2 separate regions of the Homo sapiens genome follow, and region 1 is linked to region 2. Evidence: fine-mapped expression QTL. A gene starts in region 2. The other region holds a variant in brackets. All regions are shown on one strand. Distances are between the middles of the regions. Region 1 has its middle 27 kb from the start of LINC02521. Region 2 holds the start of LINC01600 (long intergenic non-protein coding RNA 1600).

Evidence for each region.
Region 1: its variant is fine-mapped to the expression of LINC01600 in amygdala (GTEx, PIP 0.97).

Annotation. Positions count from the first base shown.
Region 1 is chr6:2,601,623-2,612,793 of GRCh38, reverse strand. No RefSeq gene overlaps it. Among named protein-coding and RNA genes, the nearest start is that of LINC02521, 27 kb to the left of the region's middle. The variant C/T (reference allele first, on the strand shown) is at 5,761.
Region 2 is chr6:2,629,730-2,640,900 of GRCh38, reverse strand. It overlaps LINC01600 (long intergenic non-protein coding RNA 1600), which reads left to right and starts at 6,298. Exons shown (of 3, transcript NR_131168.1): 1 at 6,298-6,336; 2 at 7,109-7,296. It overlaps LINC02521 (long intergenic non-protein coding RNA 2521), which reads right to left and starts at 6,401. Exons shown (of 3, transcript NR_149119.1): 1 at 6,146-6,401; 2 at 3,446-3,964; 3 at 342-1,213. RefSeq lists an enhancer at 969-1,484.

The DNA of each region.
Region 1 (11,171 bases), 28 kb after region 2:
GGTGTATATGTGCCACATTTTCTTCATCCAGTCTAGTGTGGAGATTTCTCAAGGATCTAGAACTAGAAATAAGATTTGACCCAGCAATCCCATTACTGGGTATATACCCAAAGGATTATAAATCAGACTTGTGTTGTTTTAAGCCACCAAGCTTCAGGCAATTTGTTATAGCATCAGTAGGAGACTCATATACCCTGGGACCCTCAGTGTAAGCCTACCACCGGGCAGAGAACGTGTGCTCAATGTTTATCAGAAGAATACATGGTCCAGGATGAAAATAATACCTAACACTACTTAGCACATAGCAGAAACTTCACAAAAAGTATGCCATTCAATCAAATCCCTATGTAACTGATATTATTATTATCCTTATTTTTAAATGAAGGGGCTGAGATAAAAAAGGTTAGATAAGTAGTCCAAGCTCATGCAGAGAGTAAGTGGCAAGTCGAGATTTGAACCCAAGCAGGGTAGCAGAGCAGATATGGGTGTAGGCACTGAAACCGGACAGCCTTGGGTATGTTCAGCTCTGGGCAGGGCTAGGCACAGTGGCTCACGCCTGTAATCCCAGCACTTTAGGAGGCTGAAGTGGGAGGATTGCTTGAGGCCAGGAGTTCAAGGCCAGCCTGGGCAACATAGAGAGACCTTGTCTGTACAAAAAATTTAAAAATTGGCTGGGTGTGATGGTACATACCTGTATTCCTAGCTACTTGGGAGGCTGAGTCGGGAAGATTGCTTGAGCCCAAGACTCCAAGGCTGCTGTGAGCTGTGAGCCCTGCTCACGCCACTGCACTCCAGCCTGGGCGACAGAGTAAGACCCTGTCTCAAAACAAACAAACAAACAACCTCTGGGCAAGGTGTCATGCTTTGGTCTTCTCATCTGTAAAATGGGAATAGTAACAGTCCCTGCCAGAGGTTATTATAAGGGTTAAATGAATTAGTCCAAATAAAAGTCATGGAACAGAATTTGGAACACAATGAGGGCTCCATAAATGTTAACTACGATCATTACAAAGACAAAGCTTGTAAAGAAGGTCCCACAATCACTAGATGAGGAAACATGTGAAGCCACTTTGTATGTCTAATGTGCATAGAAATGTAAATTGTCACTATTATTCTTCTTAATCATGATTGTCATCACATATCAGTAAGTGGCACAGGAACTTGTCCGCTATGATCAGGAGAATGCAGTTTACAAAATCCAGAACTAAAACTGTAAATGTACCTATAACACTTGGAGAAGGGGAGAGAGCTGATCTCAAACTAATTGATGTTAGTTTAGGGGGATTTGGTTTCTTGAGTTGATGCCTATTTCCTACCAATACGTTGGACACAGAATGACAACTGGGTAGAAATCCAGTTTCCTAGTCCCCCACACCACTCAGCTGGTCCACACGAAGCCAGCTGGACTGAGGGTGGAGATTTCTTGGTACCATTTACCAGACTCTGAGACACTCCTCAGAAGGAAGTTAAGATATGAAAACATTGACAGTGATGAATCACTTGCTGGCCAGGCTGCAGCAGCAATGCTGGGATTCAGAGCAATCACTGCCACCTGGAGCCTCATGAGAGGACATTGCTTGTGTTGCTCCAGAGCCCTATTATGGTCATTTACTAACATTTGCAAAGCTGTAAGTGAAAAAGTTATCAAGGGAATGAGAAGACATGCCACAGACTGTGAGAACATACTTGCAAAAGACACATCTGAGAAAGGACTGGTATCCAAAATAGACAAAGACTCTTAAAACTCAACAATAAGAAAACAACTCAATTAGAAAATGAGCCAAGAGACCTAGCAGATCCCTCACCAAAGAAGGTATACAGATGGCAAATAACTGTATGGAAAGATGCCCCACATCACAGTCATCAGGGAAATGCAAATTAAAACTATGAAATACCAGCACACAGCCGTTAGAATGGCCAACATCAAATGGTGAGAATGTGGAGCAACAGGAACCCTCATTCATTGCTGGTGGGAACGCAAAACAGTACGACCACATTAGGAGACAGTTTGGCAGTTTCTTACAAAACTAACATACCCTTATTATATAATCCAGTAATCATGCTACTTGGTATTTACCCAAAGGAGTTAAAAACTTATGTCCACACAAAAACCTGCACACAGATATTTATGGCAGCTTTATTCATAATTGCTCAAACTTGGAATCAACCAAGATGTTCTTTAGTGGGTGAATGGATAAATAAACTGTGGTACATCCAGACAATGGAATATTATTCACACTAAAGAGAAATGAGCTAATAAGCCATGAAAAGACATAGAGGAGCCTTAAGTACATGCTGCTAGTTAAAAGAAGCCAATCTGAGAAGGCTCCATACTGTGACTCTAACTATGTGTCATTCTGGAAAAGGCAAAACTATGAAGACAGTAAAAATATCAGTGGTTGCCAGGAGTTAGGGGGAGGGAGGGATGAATAGGTGGAGCACAGAGGATTTTTAGAGCAGTGCGACTACTCTGTATGATACCGTAATAGTGGATGATATCATTATACATTGGTCCAAATACCAAGAGTGAACCTAATGTGAACGATGGACTCTGGGTGGTGATGATGTGTGAATATGGGTGGGTTCATTGACTGTGACATGTATGCCACTCTGGTGAGGGTGTTGATCACTGGGAGGCTGTGCAGAGGGTATATTGGAAATCTCGTCACCTTCCTCTCTATTTTGCCATGGCCCTAAAACTGCTTTAAAAAATTAAAGTCTTAAAGAAGACTATGTAACTTTGTAATTCTACGTCCAGTATCTGTTTAGTAGAAACAGTGGGAAAGGAAGCACATGTGTGGATAATCCTGGAGAAAATGGAAAGAACCCAAGAAACCTGGACTTGGCCAAAGAAAGATGGAGCCCAAGAGTTTGAGCCCAAAGAAAATAACAAAACAATCAAGGACGAAATTTACCTTCAAAGCTCAGACTGAAAACGAAAACGCCCAACGTTCAACCTTGTTTTTTGTTTTCTTTTCTCAAGGCAGATCCCAGTCAGTGTATTTGCTTCTACAAAGCAACATATGAGGTTTGACAAGCAAGAACCCATTGTTAGGAGTGACGGCTCATGGAGAACACTGAAACTACACTGCTGTTATTCTGACATTTTTAATGCCACTGCTTTTCTTTCAATCCTCAGACATGTATTCATCATATTAAGAGTTCAACATATCAGATCTCCCGGCAGCAATGGTAAGAGTGTGGGCAGTAAAATTTGGCAAACTAAAGGGAAAAAATGTATCTTTCACCATTCAAAGAAACACCACAGCAGCTCGACATTAGATTTATGGAGTTACCCTACCTGCTTTTCCCCAAAACTTAATGAAACTTTTCATAGGTCTTTCCAACACACAAGAAGCTGTTAAGAATTCATGGTCTATTTCGCCTCTCAGAGAGCCTAACAATACATATTCCCTTTTACATTGAATGTTGAGTGTTTTACTTTTCTCCACATTCATCCTCTCTCCAAAACTAAACCCTCTGCCCCTCCTGTGGCTGGAAGTGTCTGCTCTATGGGTGACCTCTCAGCTACAGCCTCAGTCTCCTATGGCCTCCTCCTCTTCCTGCGTTTTATGGATAGTCTGTCTGTTCTATTTTTTTAAATGCTGCATAGGAAAATCTACATCTGACCCCATCCTTCCAATGATTGCCTAGTTCCTTTTAACAAAACTTTTATAAGAGCGTCTATTCCATGCCATCTCAAGAAATCTGTCTTTGATTCACCTCATCCTTCAGCACACCAGACAGGTGTTGGTGTTTTGGCTTATATTTATTCTACGCCTATTTTCTCTCTAGTCTTGTGTGAGTCTGGGTGTCCCTCTAGCCTGCCCAGATGACTACTATCATTCCAAAGGAATAATATTGCCCCTGCTGTTGCCCCAGATTTTCTAGTGCCATGCTACATATACAGTAAATCAGTCAGACATTAGGTTGATAATTCCCATGGGCAGGCAGGCAGGCAGTCTCTTCCATTCACTGCTGTACCCCTAGCACAGTAAAGGGCACATGGTACACCCTTGACAAACCAATAAACGACTAGAGACATGGGTACTCCATGAGCACATACAAAGAGACTACTAGGTCACAGAGCTGTGTGATGAGCTCTGGGTTCTAAGCCAATTTTTACTGGATGCCAAAACAATCATTCCGTTTAATCAAAAACTCAGCTAAGTAAATAAAGTAGCTTTGGATGATAACTCAAAGTATAAAATAAATAACCACGAACTCATACGGATATCAACAAATGATTGAAAAAATAAATGAATTGAAGAAAAGAGACAAATGTTCTGTGCAGAAAATTTCAAATAATTTCTGTAGATACTCTGCCCTCAAGGATGGGGAGTATTAACTCCCCACCCCATAAATGTGGGCTGCAGATAATGACTTCCTTCCAAAGAGCACAGTATGGAAAGTGGGGACATAGAGGAACTTTTCCTCTAGGTGAATGTATTTGTCGAATAAATTTTTGGAAAAAGAAGTTTGGGTCAAAGGGCATTTGCATTTATAATTTTAGTAGGTATTGCCAAATTCCCATAGAAATTGAAACCAATATATGTTCCCATCAGCTTTTTTTTTTTTTTTTTTTTTTTGAGATGGAGTTTCATTCTGTTGCCAGGCTGGAGTGCAGTGGCATGATCTCGGCTCACTGCAACCTCCACCTCCCGGGTTCAAGCGATTCTCCTGTCTCAGCTTCCCAAGTAGCTGGGACTACAGGTGTGCACCACCACGCTCAGCTAATTTTTGTATTTTTAGTAGAGGTGGGATTTCACCATGTTAGATAGGATAGTCTCGATCTCTTGACCTCATCATGAGCCCGCCTTGGCCTCCCAAAGTGCTGGGCCCTTCAGCTTTTAATAAATGTCTTTCCTCTACTCCATTGCCACCAGCATATTAACCTGTTAGGTTTGTTTTTTTTTTTTAAACAACCTGGGAGTTGGAAAATGAAATCTCAGTATAGTTTAATTTGCATTTTAATTATCATGAGTGAGGCTGAGTATCTTCTCACCTATCTAAACTTCTGTGATCTTGTCTGGAAAGTGTCATTTTCCCAATAGTTGGTCTTTTTTCAATTGACTGTGGGAGCTATTTAGGTATCAGGTATTCTTTGACGTTGTATGAATTAACAAGTACTTTCCCCATTTGTTGCCTTACAAAGGCCACTATAACATGGAATTTAGATGTATTGCCAACTGACTGTGTTGGATCCATTTAAACACTTTGTTTTTATAATTAAAAGCCGTTGGTAACACATACTGTTTCATCTCCTGAAATGACTTGAAGAACCATATATTGAGATATAAATATAAATGTTATTTTGATTCTTTTGGTAGCAAATAAGTAGGATTCACCCCCCCACCCTGCTCTATTTTGTAGAAGTTTTATTAAATGCCTATAATCCTATTCATTAATTATAAAAATAGAATAACAGATAAATTTAAATATTTGCTCTACATAAACCTATTTTGAATACTCTGGCAAGATCTAAAGCTTGTTTACTAAAAAGCCTTGGTAAAACCAACAAATTATACATACCTCATGAATATAGTTTTCAAGAGTTTTTTGCTCCACAAAAAAAGATCTGCTATTAGGATTTAATAAAATTTTACTGAAAAATATATACTGCCCTTTCTGGGATTAAGCAAGCACCTGGCTGCTGGCTGACACTTCAGGGGACATCAGCATCAGCTCTGTTCTCCGATGTTGTGTGTGGCTGGGCCTCCACCCCAGAGCTTTGCAGATACACAGTTCAACAGCGATGTT[C/T]CCAGTAGCTCGACACCAGAAAGGGACAGTGATGGGGCCTGTTCCGTCACATCACGGCATCTCACCTGCCCTCCTGCTCTCTACCTGCATCGAGGAGTCTCAGAGAATCCCACATGACATGAACCTTGAAGCCTCAGGGGTAGGCCCTCCAGCCCCTGAGCAGAGGCCGCAGAGTTAACGTTTTGAAAGTGGTTTTCTGTTGCTAAAAAATGTGTGGTTTATCACAGCCCTAAAAAATGTCCAATGATTGGGATTATCCCCCTTCTCCTTTCCTGTGTGCCTTCAATTAGCTGAATGAAAGCAAACCCGTGGCTTTAGAACCTGAAATAGCTGGAGAAAAGTGATGCAGATTTCAGGCGAGATGAAAGAGTGGAACCCAGAAGCCTAATTAAAAGCAACTGAGAAACCAGTATTTGATACGGCGTTCACTCACCTGAAAAAATAAACCAAGAGCTCCAGCAAGCTTTGCTGGAGGGTTGTCGGAGAGGGGCTGAGACGTTGCACTCAGGTCACAGGAAGGCCCGACTCGCAGGACACAGAGCCTCACTATTTCTTTCCTCTTGGAGTCAGGGGAAGGTCAGCCAGCCCGCCGAGGCCACCAGCCCGGCCTGCTTGACAATAGCCAGTTAGCCAGCAAAACTTTCCTCCAAGGTGGCAAGGGTGACAGCTATCCATCCCCAAACGCATTGCTTTTTTAAAAATCTTGAAATGTGCATGATTTGTTCAACATCACTTTCCCCCTGATTTTCCCTGCTTCTTTTTCTTCTCACACTTCTCTTCCTCCTGCTTTTACTACTCCCCATGTCATCTTTCTTAAATGCAGGGCATTTCTGTACATTCAGCTTATGGTTTGTTTTTGATGGCAGAAACTATCAAGGACTCACTGAAAGAATTAGTCCTCCTTTACCAAGAGGAAAATTCTCTTGGTTTTGAGATAAATCAAGGCCCAAGGTCAGTCAAGGGAGGAAATAAATAAATGAGCCTCTCTTTCATACATTGCATATTTTTAAACCTACAAATCAGCCCCCCGAATGGAATGCTGGCATATAAAAGCAGCATTTGGGATCCCGCTAAATGCAACTGCCATCACGTCCAAGATTTTAGTTGGAGGCAAGAAAAAGGACTTAATTTTAATTGCTGGGGGAGACGTCCTTCATTCTTTTCCTTTCCAAGTTTGATATTCATGACCTTGGGTAGGATGGGAGGTGGGGAATGTGGAAAGATGGATATGGGGTCGCGGTGGTTTTATTACTGTAAGTAACTGAAACAACAGCCCCGTTTTTGGAACAGTCTGTTCAGGAAGCAGAGACTAGATGCTTCCCCCTCAGTGGGGTCACAGTTGGCTTTTCTTGACTTCACGCGTTGTCGGATGGGATCCACAGTGAACTGAGGTTATCAACACCGAATAGCAGCTACCATTTCACATTGCAGGATGCACTTCAGAAACCACACACCAGCGCGAGGATCTCACATGGACATTACTGTTGTTATCTCTTAAATGCTTTGGGAACACCAAGGACCTCTCACTTTGTTGGGTATTGTAGAGAGGTTTTATAGGAAGTGATGAAAATATGGCCTTTGTCTGTAAGGAGTCAACCATCTTAAAGTAACATGTTTATATAAACACAAACATTCACCGTTGTTCCCAGAGTTCACTTAGGTTGGTCATCTTCCTTCCTTCCCTTCCTTCCTTCCCTTCCCTTCCCTTCCCTCCTTCCCTCCCTCCCTCCCTTCCTTCATTCCTTCCCTCCTTCCTTCCTTCCTCCTTCCCTCTTTCCTACTGTTTCTCTGCCTCTCTGTGTATTTTCTTCTTTTCTTTTCTTTCTTTCTTTCTTTCTTTCTTTCTTTCTTTCTTTCTTTCTTTCTTTCTTTCTTCCTTTCTTTCTTTCTTCTTTCTTCCTTTCTTCTCTCTTCTCTTTGTGTCTCTCTCTTTCTCTTTGCCTCTCCTTCCCTCCCTCCTTCCTTCCTTCCTTCTTTCTTTCTTCTTCTCTTTCTTTCTTTCTTTTCTCCTCCATTCTGCTTCTATCTTTCCTGACCTGGTTTCCCATCATGAAACTTCTCTGCCTTAAGCTTAGGGCCAGCATTTAAAGATCACCCTCTGTACAGTACAAGAGGCTATTTGCTTTGCCAAATGATTTCTTGCTTCTGTTTACTTTGGGGACCTCACAGACAGATTTAATCAATTGCATTTATCAGTATAATCTGTTCAAGGCTCCTCTCCTGCTGTATTGTTTTCCCTTTTACCCCTGATTTCCTGGCTATCCCCCTGCTTCTACCCCCAGACCCAGTGTAAGGTGTTTTATACAAGTCCTCAAATAACCAAATAATCATGGATTTTTTTACATAACATATTGGGCTGTTTTGTATGTGTATGTGCTTTAATTTACATAAAGGGCATTATGGTGTACATTGCATTCTTTTTCTTACTTTTCCCACACGTTCTGTCCATGTTGATGCAGAGAACATCACAGTGCACACAGGCCACATGGGCCTCTGCCGTCACTCCACATGCATGGCAGTGGCTGGCTATGGGAAGGGACTTCCTTCTAGAGAGACAAGATGGAGAAATCAGAATTATTGGTCCCAATTGGGCCAGCTACATAAAACAGCAGGTGATATGAGGGCAATCTGTGTAATTTTTTTTTTTTTTTTTTTGAGACAGAGTCTCGCTCTGTTGCCCAGGCTGGAGCGCAGTGGTGCGATCTCGGCTCACTGCAAGCTCCGCCTCCTGGGTTCACACCATTCTCCTGCCTCAGCCTCCAGAGTAGCTGGGACTACAGGCGCCCCCCACCACGCCCGGCTAATTTTTTGTATTTTTAGTAGAGACGGGGTTTCACGGTGTTAGCCAGGATGGTCTCCATCTCCTGACCTCGTGATCCGCCTGCCTCTGCCTCCCAAAGTGCTGGGATTACAGGCGTGAGCCACCGTGTCCAGCCCAATCTGTGTCCTTGAATAAATGTATCACCCTGGTGGGAGCTAACTGAATGCACTTGGGACCCCTGCCACATGCCCATGTGGCTCCCCGGAATTCCCTTCACGGCAGGTGCCACAGGCGTAATTATACCATTATTGTGGTGCTCATTGGTGAACATCTGAGAGCTCCTAGCGGACGGGTCTATGTTCCCTGGTTCACTGCTGCATTCCCAGGGCCTGGCTTAGCGCCAGGCTGATGTGGGAGAATCACTGGAAGCCAGGAGGCACAGGTTGCAGTGAGCCGAGATCATGCCACTGCACTCTAGCCTGGGCAACAGAGTGAGACTCCGTCTCAAAAATAAACAAATAAATAAAAACAAAAACAAAAGAGGTGACACTAACTACTCATAAGTCATAAGGTTGTTTCAAGGATTCTTTGCAGCCTTTTATGCCACTCTGGCTGAGTGTTGCCATTTTTTATTGGGCCCCCAAAGTGGGAGTCTTTGTCCTTAGATTCTGACATCCCTCCAAGCATGACACCCCATTTACATGATGCCTTCTTTTAGTTCCCCAGTGTCCCCTTTTCTCCAGCAACCGGAGGTGTACAATGTTGCCCCCAAAAGATCCTTTCCAGTAGACCATCATCAGCACCCCTGACTCCCCCTCACTCTGGTCTTGCTGAAGCTCTCTCCTGGGAAAGGTGGATTCTCCGATCAACTCTACAGGGAGTTTAAAAGGGCAAGCTCTGTGGTGACCACCTCCGGGCTTATTTCCTTGGGATGAACTTCAGGAAGTGAATTGTTGGCCAAAGAATCTGTCTTTTACATACTGCTTGCAATAGCTCTTTATATTTAAGGACGCTGGTTCTGTATCTGGAATACATATGGCAGGTATTTTTCTGCTTTGTGAAGTGACATTTCATTTTGCTCAGGAGATTTATGGAATTTATCACATGCAGTCAGAGATACTGGTAATTTAGTTTACAATCCCCGACTTCAATGTTGTTTTTAGAAAGGGCCGTTCAAACACCCAAATTATATAAATATTTAGCTAAATTTCTTCTACTACTTGTAAGGTCTCATTTTTAACACTTTATCTCTTTAATCCATCTGGAATTTATTTTGATATTTGGAGTAAGGTAAAAAGCTTAATTTTTTCCAGATAGGTAAGTAGGTTTCCTGGTACATTTAATAATCTTTCCTTTCCTTGTTTATACGAAGCGCCAAAGTTATCTTATATTAAATAATGATATGCACTTGTGCCTGTTTCTGGATTTTTGAATGATCTTTCTAAATCTGCTCTGTCTCTTTTTACATTAACAGAAACCTGTTTTAACTATGTAGCAAAATACACATTAATATGTAATAATAAAAATACACTCATCATCATTTTCAGGTATTGTTATTAATTTTTCTTAGTTATTCCTCCCAAATTATTCCTCAAGTTTAAATTTGTAATCACTTTTTAAAGTTAAAGAAAATATTGGGGTTGTGATGGAGATTGCATTAACACTTTACGTTCCATTTGAGGATAATTTACATGGATGTACTATATCTTCTCACTCAGCAACATGATCTGCCTTTCCATTTTATTGCCTTTTTTTTTTTTTAATCTTAATAAAGTTCTTGGCCAGGCACAGTGGCTCACGTCTGTAATCTCAGCACTTTGGGAGGCCAAGGTGGGCAGATCACCTGAGGTCAGGAGTTCGAGACCAGCCTGACCAACATGGTGAAACCCTGTCTCTACTAAAAATACAACAATTGCCCGGGCACAGTGGTGGATGCCTGTAATCCCAGCTACTCAGGAGGCTGAGGCAGGAGAATCACTTGAACCTGGGAGGTGGAGGTTGCAGTGAGCCGAGATCGCGCCGCTGCACTCCAGCCTGGGTGACAAAGTGAGACTCAGTCTCATAAAATAACATAAAATAAAGTTTTTAAGGCTTTTTTCTAAATAAATACCTTCTATATTCCTCTTAAAATAAGTTTAATTTGTAGACAGTTCACATTTTTAAAGCTATTGTGAACATTTTGCAGTTCTGTTTAACATTTTCAACATATTTCTTTTTCATAACTCTCTGCTGCTAGATGCCTCATTACAAGAGCTAATTGTCCTAAAATATTTTAGGCAATGTTCGACTCATTTGTTAGTATCTGTGAATAGCTCTGAATTTCCTTATCCCTGAGGACAATTTTCTGTCACTTCACCAATATTTACTCCTCTGTCTTCACCCTGTTGCTTCTTGACAACAGTAAATAGGAGTGGTCAGCATGAGCCTCCTCTTCTTAACTTTGATAGAATTGGCTCTAACTGACACCATCAAGTATGATGTTGGCTGTTGGTTTGAAATATTCTTTATCATATTAAAGAAGTATCCAGTTTTGGCTTTCTGAAAGTTTTCATTCTGAAAGGATGTTGACTTTTACCAAATGCCTACAGTCTATCTGCTAAGACCCTTAATGGGGGCATCCTGTGTTCATCTGCTTTGATCAGAGACACAG
Region 2 (11,171 bases):
AAATCTGCCCAGGGGATTCTCAGAGATAGCCGTGGTTGAGGGGACCACTGGCTAAGAGAAAGGATGAAAGCAAATGCAGGCGTTGATTCCTGAAACCTGGGGAATGCCTGCAGTGAGGGGGAAAAGGGTAACTTGGATTTCCTACTAAGTCTCTTTACTCCTTTGTCGTGCAGGTATTTGGATGCCCCACTGTCCCAAGACTATGGGATTATCTTCCTCCCACTGTCATTCATATTTACACCTCTGTGGATGGGTGAAGCATTAATACAGACTTTCAGTGAACTGAACTGAGCAGTTAAAAACAAAGCCGGATGAATGACAAGATGTGAAAAGAAGCAATCCCTTCAGATTCTTTTATCTTGCTTGCTTTAAATGTTCAAACACCCAAACAGGCTGATAAATTAAGATTTCATGGAAAGCTGTGCGTAGCTTTCAGCCACAGCAATAGTCCGAGGTTCTAGTTCTCTGGTGCCAATAATAAAATCATTTCAAATGCAAATAAAAAGTCAGTGTTGAAAATGACCAGTTTAGAAAAATTGTGCTATAGTTACCAGCTCTCATACAAACAGTGCCTGAGAAAGTCAGATCGCAGTCTATAAACAGGCTATATTTAGATGACTTCCAATCCCAGTGTGTTCCCAGACCTGGTCAGAGCTAGGCAGCTTCCCACTTGGTCATTTTTGTCCAACAGGGTCTTGTCCCCTTGTAATCTGTGAATCCTCCCTTTTCCCAGGCTCCCAGGGAGACCGTCGTGTGGTTGCCCATCCTGCAGAGCCCCACCCAAGCAGGACGGCTGCCAGCCCCTGGGCAGTGCTGGACCTCGGGCTGTGAGTTCAGCTGAGCTGCGTGATCCAGATGAGCTGCAGATTGTCCACAGGCTGCCACCCAGACGCTGGGTCACAGGGGCTCCCCCTGTGCTTTATTGAGACTGGTCAGCCCTCCGCCACTCCTAAGAAAGAAGATCCTTGACAGGTCCTCGACTTCTTCTCCATCACTGGGCCATGGTGTGTCCAGATTTTGGAAAGAGAGAAAAGAGAAAAAAAAAAGTCCATCCACCATCTCAAACGTGTCTGCACCTCGCTTGCAGGTGGACAAAAAGCTCCTGTGAGGTTTCCGTTTTTGGCATGTCATCTCTCTAGAGACATGGTCCCTCTAAATGAGGAGGTGATCTGGACCCCTGCTGGACCGAGGCAGCTCCCCACTTTGCCGAGGCCTAAACAAACCCAAACAGGACATGCAAGATCAACAAATGCCAACCAGCCACACAGCTGAAGCAGAAACGCAGAAAGCTGTGCACCAGGAAGAAGCGTGACCTTCAAGAATCTGCCCTCGCGTATACAAGCGACATTGGTCCTGCCTGACATGACAAACACACAACCCCCCACACACAAACACACAAACACACACACATGCACACAGACATATACACACACACAGAGACGGACATACAACCGTGGTATAAAAACACACACACACCCAGGCTGCCCCTGAGGCTGCGGGGTTCTGCGGCTGCCAGGAAGCCCCTCTGGGAAGAGAGCAGCCCATGGCCATACAGGCAGGCCAGCCCTCGAAGTCACAGTGGGACGATCTCAGGGGAGACTCATCCACACATCACCTAGGCAGGACTGAGACAGGGATCCCGCAGTGCATCACTGGGGCTCTGATTGACGTTTGTTCATCCTGGTCGGCCCTCTGCGACTCCTAAGATCCCAGGACCATCCCGGCGACACCCTGGAAAAAACAGGCCACAGCAGCACGACACTGAGGCACTGCCACAGAAGGCTCCTGCTGTGCTGATCCTCAGGAACTCACCCTCAGGCAGCGGAAGCAGGCGCTGTGACCAGGCTCTCTAGCAGGTGGAGTGAGTGTGTGTCTCCGAGGAGGTATAGAGCCATTCCAAGACTGACGACCCCCTCACCAATAAAGTGAAGGAAAGGCCAAGCACACCTGAGGACCCCAAGAGGGCCACACTGGGGTCCAAGCCACCTTCAGGGATGCCTGCCAGAAGACCCAAGACGTTCCTGTGATGTGCCAGCCACTCCCACCCCTATGCTGGTGACAGCACACACACCCTCAGCTGCAGCAGGCCAACCCTCAGTCCACTTGGCTCAGTGAAATCCGTGGCAGTCAGAAGACTTAGTGCTGGGAGGCAGTCCCACCCGGGAGCAGAGGGGCTGGATATCCCTCAAGAGTGGCGAAGGCACTGTAGATGCCAGGAAACTCCACCTTTCTTAGAAGGCAAAGGCCAGCCACGCTTGGCTACCGCTCATCCTATAGGGTCATGCCGCCGTCTGCTTGAACCCTGGAGACCAAGGGAATGTCTGTGTGGGCGACAGGTATGGAAACCCAGAGCTCCAGGATCCTCCCACCTGCCCAACCATGCAGAGAGAGGTTTGGAGAAGGAAAAAAAGATCCCGGATGAACTGGGAAATGTGGCTGGTTGAAGACTCTGAGCCAGATCAAGAAAAATTGAGGCCCAGCAGGAACATGGAAGACAGAAAAAGGGTGAGGGCAGTGTAGACAGAAAAAGAGCAAGGCAGAACGCAGCAAGGCCACTGCCGTGTGGAGCTGGGAATGAGTGCCCAACCGGCGGCCTAGCCAGAAAGGCCACAGTTGGAGGAAAAGAGATCCTTGCCAAGTTCTCAGCTTCTTCTCCATCGTTGGGCCATGATGTGGCTAGATTTTGCAAGGAGAGGAAAAGGGGAAAAGGAGTTCCATCCACCACCTTGGACATCTGTCTGAACCTTTCTTGAAGCTGGACAGGCAGCTCCTCTGGGGTTTTGGTTCTTGCGTGTGTCATATTCCCTCTAGAGAAGTGACCCCTTGGGATGGGGAGGTGATTTGGACCTTCACCCAACGGACGCAGCTCCCCACTTTGCCACGGCCTAAAGAAATTTTTTTTTTTTTAGATGGAGACTCACTCTGTCACCAGGCTGGGGTGCAGTGGCGCAATCTTGGCTCACGGCAACCTCTGTCTCCTGAGTTCAAGTGATTCTCTTGCCTCAGCCTCCCGAGTAGCTGGGATTACAAGCACGCACCATCATGCCCAGCTAATTTTTGTATTTTCAATAGAGACGGGGTTTCACCATGTTGGCCAGGATGGTCTTGATCTCCTGACCTCGTGATCCGCCCACCTCAACCTCCCAAAGTGCTGGGATTACAGGCGTGAGCCACCACACCCGGCTGGCCTAAAGACATTTTAATGGGAAGCACACGATAAACAAATATTAACCAGCCACACAGCACGAGTGGAAACGCAGGGAGCAGAGCATCAGAAAGAAGGCTGGCTTGAAAGAATCCGCCCTTGAGTATACAAGACACATTGGTCCTGCCAAACACCCCCCACCCCCGCACGCGCACACACACACACACACACACACACACACACACAGAAACACACACACCCAAACGGACATATAACCGTGGCACAGGAACACACACATACCCAAGCTGCCCCTGAGGCTGTGGAGTCCTGCTGCCGCAAGCAAGTTCCTCTGGGAAGAAAGCAGCTCACGGCCACACAGGCAGGCTGGCCCTCGAGGTCACAGCGGGGAGAATCTCTGGGATACTCATTCACATACTGTCTAGGCAGGCCCGAGGCAGGGATCCCACGGCGCCTCCCCAGGGCTTTGCTTGACCTCGGGGATTCAGGGTGTCTTTCCTCTACCGGCTCCCAATCTCCCTCTAGGTGGTGAGGGCTGGCAGGGCCGTTTGTGGGGGGCAGAGCAGAAAGAAGAAGTATAGTAGAGGTTGTGACTCCCTGGGAAGGTGAGGGCTCATGTGAGCCTATACTGAGTAGATACACTGAGTAGATTCTGACTAAGGACGTCCACGAAGTTATGTTCTTTCCTGAGATGCCACAAAAAGTCATCACCAGTCTGTAAAACTCCCAGGCAGAGGGTGTGATCGTCACATTAATCAAAAAGCAGGCAGCTCTACCACCTCGTACTCATCAGGATGGCCTCTGTCAAAAATCCAGAAACAACAACGTTGGGGAGGACGTGGAGAAAGTGGGCCCTTCGGAACCGCGGGTGGGACGGAAAAGCTGTGCGGCCGCGCGGAAATCTGTACAGTGGCTCCTCCAAAAATTAAACGGAATCACCACGTTATCCAGCAATCCTCTTCCGGGTATATATCCAAAGGAATCGAAAGCAGGGTCTCAAGGAGTTACGTGTACACCCGTGTTCACAGAAGTGTTATTCACATTAGGCAGAAGGTGGAAACAACCCAAGCGTCCATGGATCCATGGACAGATCAATGGATAAGCAAGACGTGATGGGTGCGTATGATGGAACGCGACTCACCTTAACAGGGAGGGAAACCCTGACACGCTACAACGTGCATGAGCCTGGGGGACATCCTGCTAAGTGTAGTAATCCTGTGATAAAAAGGATAAACGTTGTGTGAGGTTCCTAGTGGTCAAATTCACAAAGACAGCAACTGGAACGGGGGAGAGAAGATGGGGAGTTGGTGTGTAGTGGGGCCAGAGTTTCCATCTAGGAAGAGGAGAAAGTCCCGGAGATGGATGACGGTGATGGTTGCATAGTAATGTGAATGTACTTAATGCCATTGAACTGCACACTTAAAAAAGGTTAAGAGGGTCCATTTTATGTTAGGTGTATCTTAGCAGAACTAAAGCAAAACAGAAGGCAGTGTTAAAAACAGTGGATGACGAGCTCTCAAGGTGGTGGAGGCCATCGCCCACTTCACTTGGGGGACCCCTGCTCTCAGAAGCACACACTTCACGGGGTCACCTGGTGTTCATGCCGGCGACCTTTCTCTCCCTGCCTGTGGCCTGGCCCCAGGTCAGCATTCACCAGGTGGGGAGAGTCTGTGCAGCGCGGCGTGGGCCTTGCACGCTCCTTTTTGTGTTTGTTTGGGTTCTACTTTTCCGGACTGCGACACTTATAACTTCATTAGAAAATATCACTTTCTTCAGACCCACACATTCATTTATTAGGCACTTACGCTCCATAAAATGAAATGCACAGCAAGGCCGCTTTCATGCTTCCTTGAAGTTCTATCAACTTATTTTGGGGGCAGATTTGACCTGTCAGAGCACTTCCTCCGTGGGAGCTCCATATCTAAATATGTGCATATATAGTTTTCTACTTTACTGACGGTAGCTTTCATAAAGCCGCTTGAAGTACTTACTAAAAATCCATCTTAAGACTCTTTCTGCATTTTGGGAGGCCGAGGCGGGTGGATCACCTGAGGTCAGGAGTTTGAGACCAGCCTGGCCAACATGGTGAAACCCGGTCTCTACTAAAAAATACAAAAAATAGTCGGGCATGGTGGCGGGTGCCTGTAATCCCAGCTCCGTACTCCAGAGGCTGAGGCAGAAGAATCGCTTGAACCCAGGAAGCAGAGGTTGCAGTGAGCCAAGGTCGCGCCATTGCACTCCAGCCTGGGTAACAAGAGTGAAACTCTGTCTCAAAAAAAAAAAAAAAAATCTTCCCCACACATAATGTGGCAGGACAGGAAACACTAGGATTCCTCCAGTTTATGGGGAGATTGGGAGAGCTGAGGCTTCACAATGACACAGCCGGGTATGGAAAACACCAAAAGAAATATGCCTTTTTGGATGACAATACTCCACCCCAATTTCCAAGTATGCTACAACTTTTCCTCAGCCTCGATGGGAGGTATTTACAGTGAGTGGTAGAAGCTTTACTGCAATGCCCTGGTAGACACAGGCTCCACCAGGCTTGGCTTCTACACTCTCACTGGGTCTATGGATGAGCACAGAAGCCAGGTTTCTGGCTCACAGAGAACCTAAGTGCTGAGTTTATATATAAAGTGCACAGTGTGAATAATTAAATATGAAAACGTGTACACACCAAACAGGACATTTTTACTTAATGCCAAAGAAGCACAAACGACCCTTTCTTTTGGGAGTTTCACAAGCATTTCTGCTCAACAGTAATCCCCCAGTGACAGTGATAGTAGTGGTTTCAATATTTTGTTTATAAAAAGCAACATTATAAAATGCCCTGAAAGGTCTTGGCTTCTTTTGTGAGCTCTGAACTATTCAGAAATTCAGCTTGCTATCTGGGGACAACAAATAAATCCCTACTCTAAAAAAATGGGATTCGGGTTTTTCTCCTGTGCTGCTTCCTGGCCTTAACGCTTCCTGGGGACTTACCGTCATTTGCTCAGTTACGGTTTCTATGGGATGAGTGGGGAAGCCGCGTGGTGAGGAAGCCTGGCTCGCACCCGGCCTGCGCTCTCTCGGGCCTGGCCGCATCGGCCACCAGGGGGCAGTGTTGTCATTCGCTGGCGACGCCGCCCCGCCCCGAGCGGATGCCACCCCGTTTCCAGCCTCCGGTGCTCACCGTAAGCTCTGTTATTATTATCTTTTGATTTATAAAGCGCCGTTCCTCAGCAGATTCCCCGCCCCCCAGCTGCTTCCGAGAAAGCTCGCAGAAGCGTTCGTGCGCAGGCGCGGAAGCCCCGCACAGCACGCGGTGGGCCCGGTTCGGGGGGGCGCACGGCCTGGGGCGTCGGGAAGAGGCTGCGGGCAGCGGGGCCTGCGGGCGCGGCGTGGCGGGGCGGGAAAACGGCTCTGTCCCGTGGGGCGCAGGCAGGAACGTGTTCCCATAAAAGACACAGGGAAGACCAACCCTGGGCGTTAGCCATCCAAACCTTCCCTCCCGTGCGAAACCCGCTGCCCTGCGGCCAGGACTGTGAGGGAAGCGATGGGAGGAACCCGGGAGCCCGCGAAGGCCGGGCCCCAGAGTCCGGGCGCCCCTGAGCGGGGCGGAGGGGACAAATAGAACCTTTTTAAGGACAGCTGAAAGAGATTATAAGCGCGGTGTGCTGGGACTTTGGAAAGGGCGCGAGTCATTAGTGGGGGCGAATCAGAGGGGAGTATGTTGACGGGATAATAACAAAAATAAAGAGGCTTGATAAGAAAGACACGGCTTTTGGAGTCAAAGGGAAAATCCGGGACAATGAGGGTTGGCAGGTTCCTGGGACACAAACCAGGAAAAACAGGGCCACACCGGAGCGGCCTGCCTGGCTCCAGCACAGCCGGTGCAGAAGCTAATTTTGTTCCGAGTCCTCCTAGCTCAACAAACATGCCGCCATAGCACCTATTTTCTTTTAGGTAATGCTCACAACAACCTAGCAAAGTGGGGATCATCTTCACCACTGTACAGATGAAGAAATTGAAGGTCAGACATTCAAGGTTATGTGGCCACATGAGAGAAATACCAGAGCTGGGATGAAGACTCAACGGCTCTCAGACACCAGGTTGCTTCTTGAGAGAAGCCGGATGGATGTGCATGCAGGGAGGTGAGCCTCAAAGCAGGTCCAGCTTTCTCCCGTGAGTGTTCCAGTGGCTTAGGGTTAGGGTTAGGGTCCAGAGGAGGAGAGGCGTCCAGAGCTGGGGCCGTCTGCGTTTTGCCTTGCTGTCCCAGAGTGGCAGCGAGGAGTGGCCTGGCCTAGAGGGTCTTTGTCTTATCTTGTGACTTGCTGTTTCTCCTCTGTCTGCAGGAGCTGGGGGAGGTTGGAGAAGCCGCAGCCCAGAAGGGGAGGGAGGACACCATGTCAGAGCTTGCTGGAGCAAGCTTTGGAGGAAGGCCACAGGGGACATTGTCACCAAGGGCCACGGCAGCGTGCACCCTGGGTTAGAGAAAGGGGCAAATTATGGATATGAAAAATGCTTCCCTCAATGAAAAGGACCCTGCTGAGACAGGATGGCTGTGGGCCAAATACCCCTACAGTGCCTGATTCTTTTATCTTATTATTTATTTAAACAAGACCAGCATTTTGCTTTAGATAGAAAATCTCTCTCTGCTACAAAATTGCAAGCCCTGGGAAAAGTCTCCAAGAATGGCTGATGCCACAGTCAAACAATAACATACATGTCGGGGTGAAACAGTGCACAGAGGATGAAAAAAGGGAAAAGCTCGAGGCCCCGGGAGGAAGGAGCTGGGAGGGTGGAGGGCGTGGAGGTGTGAGGGCCCAGAGGGATTGCCCAGGAAGGTATGGAGGACCGAAAATGGATCACCAGCCCTCATGGACAACTTAAACTAAAGGTGGAAAAGACAGAAAAGCTGGCAGGGGGAATTGTCTCCAGCCAACCTGTCAACTTTTGGAAAAAGATGGATCACAAAGAATGGGAAGTGGAAGAGAAGGAGAGGAGAAACCAAGAATAAAGAGCAGACGCTGTGGGCAGAGCTGTGGGGCGCCCATGCTGGCAGAGCTGGGTTCTAGGGCCCTGGTTTCGGCTGTGTAACCGCTTGCCCAGCCCTCATCTCATCCCTCAACAATGAGGGCCTGGCAAGGGAGGGTATGCTGGCCTATTTTTGTCTCATGTATTTGTGGACTCTGTCCAGAAGCTCTGAGATGCCAAGTTAAAATGGAGAAGGTTTGAGTCACCGCCACCTGGCCAGAGCCTCAGTGAGTGGGACGCCAGGGCTGGGGTCGGGGGCTGCAGAGTTGCTGTTGATTCACGCGGCTTCTCTGGGGTCTGGATCTCAGTTTGGCTGTGAGGCTAAGCCCTGAATGGGTGCATAGCAACGTTATTCTGGAGTGCTAACAGCCTACCCTTGCCACCCACGTCTTAGAGACATTAGAAAGTTGGGTACAACATTCCCCACCTCCCTCTGATTTTTCTGGAGTAGACTGTGATGAGGAGATGGTCAGTCTCCAATAAAGTCAGCACCTTCCATGAAAAATGACTTTCCCTGAAAGTTGTTTTGGAGTGTTAAAGAAAAATATCTTCAAAATTCTTTACCACTTTTTGAGCCCGATTCCAGATGTTTGGCATATCCTAAATTATCCACTTTAAGCTTTGATAATCCTAGGAGGTAGATACTGTTATTCCCGTTCCGCAGATGCAGAAACTGAGGCCCTCATTAATGCTGGGACCACTCATGGTCACAGCTGGTGGTGGTGGAATTGGGATTTGAAGTCAGATCTCTGACTCAGAACTTGGGTACTTCTTTCATGTTTCCTTTTCCTCCTTTATTCAAAGTAGCTTAATTGCTTTTGTAAAATAAACGTGAACATCACCCCAACTGCCGCCGTCCAGGGATAACCAGGAACAGTTTAATGAATGTCCTTCAAGACCTCTCTCTCTTGCATTAACTTGAATTCAAGCTTGTCAATACCCAGATTATTCCTTCTTGAAAGTCGGTCCTATGCATTTAATTGAATTGAAGTTGGTGGCTTTTCCTGCTCTTGACATTTGCCTGAGTTGGCCTCGGGATTCTGTAAAGGAAGCGCCTTCTGGGCTGCAGTTTTCTCTTTCCCTACTCCCCGTGGTGTCTGCTCCTCACCTCAGTCAGATAAGACCTTGGTCCTCCTTTCCATGCCCCCAGAAAGGACCCAACTAGCTCTTCCAAAGATGTGCTTGGAATTCCCGGACAGCTAAGGGATCAGCTGCCAGGACGGGGCTGTTGCACGGTTGGCGTGTGGGGGCCAGTGTTCCGTGGAAGGTGCCTAGAGATGGGCCGCCTCCTCCATCTTCCCCAGGCCTCCTTCACCTGTGGGCAGGAGATGTTTGTGACGTTCCTTCCGGTCAGCAGGACTTCAGGAAGAGCCGCCGCTAAGCCTGGGGGCAGGACTAGCCAGGCTCCCTACTGAGGCCTTCTCATGTTCCTGACAAGGCCGAGGGTAAGCTTACTCACCCATTTTCCACCTGCGGAAATGGGTTCATAAGTTCAAACATGCACAGCTGCTGGTGGGTGTCAGGATTTGGGATCTGGGCTCAGAGCCTGCATTCACATCACAACATCACCACACTTCCCTGCTTCCCTTGGCCACATCTCCATCACATCTGAAGGGTTTTGTGTTCAAGGAGTCTTTTAAAAATAACAATTTTTGACCAGGAAGAATTAGGACTGAGCAAGACTTAGTCATAACAAACAGACAGACACATCCACGCTCCACACCCTGGGCTATGTAGATGTGGCCTACCCCCTTCTTTTTGAAGTGCCTGTAAATAAATAAACCTGTGCCAAGCTGAGCTCAAAATTGAGTGGTTTACCCACGTTTGACATCCAGCGCAACCTGTGAAAGCTGTTTTGTTTTTATTATTGTGCAAAAAGTGTTCTAATTACAATATGCTTTTCTGAGTCAGAAGAGAACGGTAAACCATTTGGCTATGGAGTGATATTTGTGAAATCCCACTGGAAGAGATTATAAGCTGATTTTAATGCACTTTTACTAATGGTTTAATAATCCTAAGGAGAACTGACTGAGCCCTCATAATGAATGAAGAATTTTGATGGCAGGATCCGTAAATGCTGATGTTAGAGAAGGTCAATGGATTAGTGAGTCAGATGCTTCCAGGGGCTTGTATGAGTCAGGAAAAACAGGTCATGCTGTGGAAACAAACCCCAAGGTCTCAGTGACGTAAGAAAAGTTTACCTCTTGCTCATTAAAGGCTGGGTCAGGCAGCTCTCCAGGCCAACTCTCCTCGGGTGAGCGGGATCCTTGCCACTTCCATCTTGTAGCTGGGCCGTCTGGAGCCCCTGGCTTCCAGCATTGCTAAAGTGAGGGAGAGAGGGTGAGAGGACTGGCGGGAAGGTCTAAGACCATATTCTAATGTATAAACTAGAATGTATACATTCTACTGTATAAATTTATTCTACCCAAGAGGGACAAGGGCTGCTTAAGAGCTGCTGTGCAGGTCAGATAGAGTCATCACACCTTTATGTTGTGTCTTCATTTTCTCTCAAATACATTAACATATTTTTTTAGAATAGTTTCAGAATTTTCGAAGCAAAACTGGAGTCTGTGATGGTAAGCACTTGTCATTGGATTTAGGGTCCACTCTGATCCAAGATGATCTCATCTCCAATCCCCAACTTAATTATGTCTGCAAAGACTCCAAATATCATCACATTCACAGGTTATGGGTGGATGTATTTTTTTTGCGGGGGGACACTATTCAACCCACTACAACCACCGTCTAGAAAGGACAGATGTTAGCATCCTATCCTAGGTGACCCAGGTATTTTTCATAACAAAATTCAACATTCGAGAGAGGATGAGAAGTATAGTTTGAGGACTTGGCTCATGCCATTGTGGGGCTGGCAAGTTCCCACAGTGCAGGTTTAGCTGGCAGGCTGGGGACTTAGGGAAGTTGTCTTTGAGTCTAAAGACCATCTGCTGGGAACATTCCCTCTGGCTCAAGGAAGGTCAGTCTTTTCCTTAAG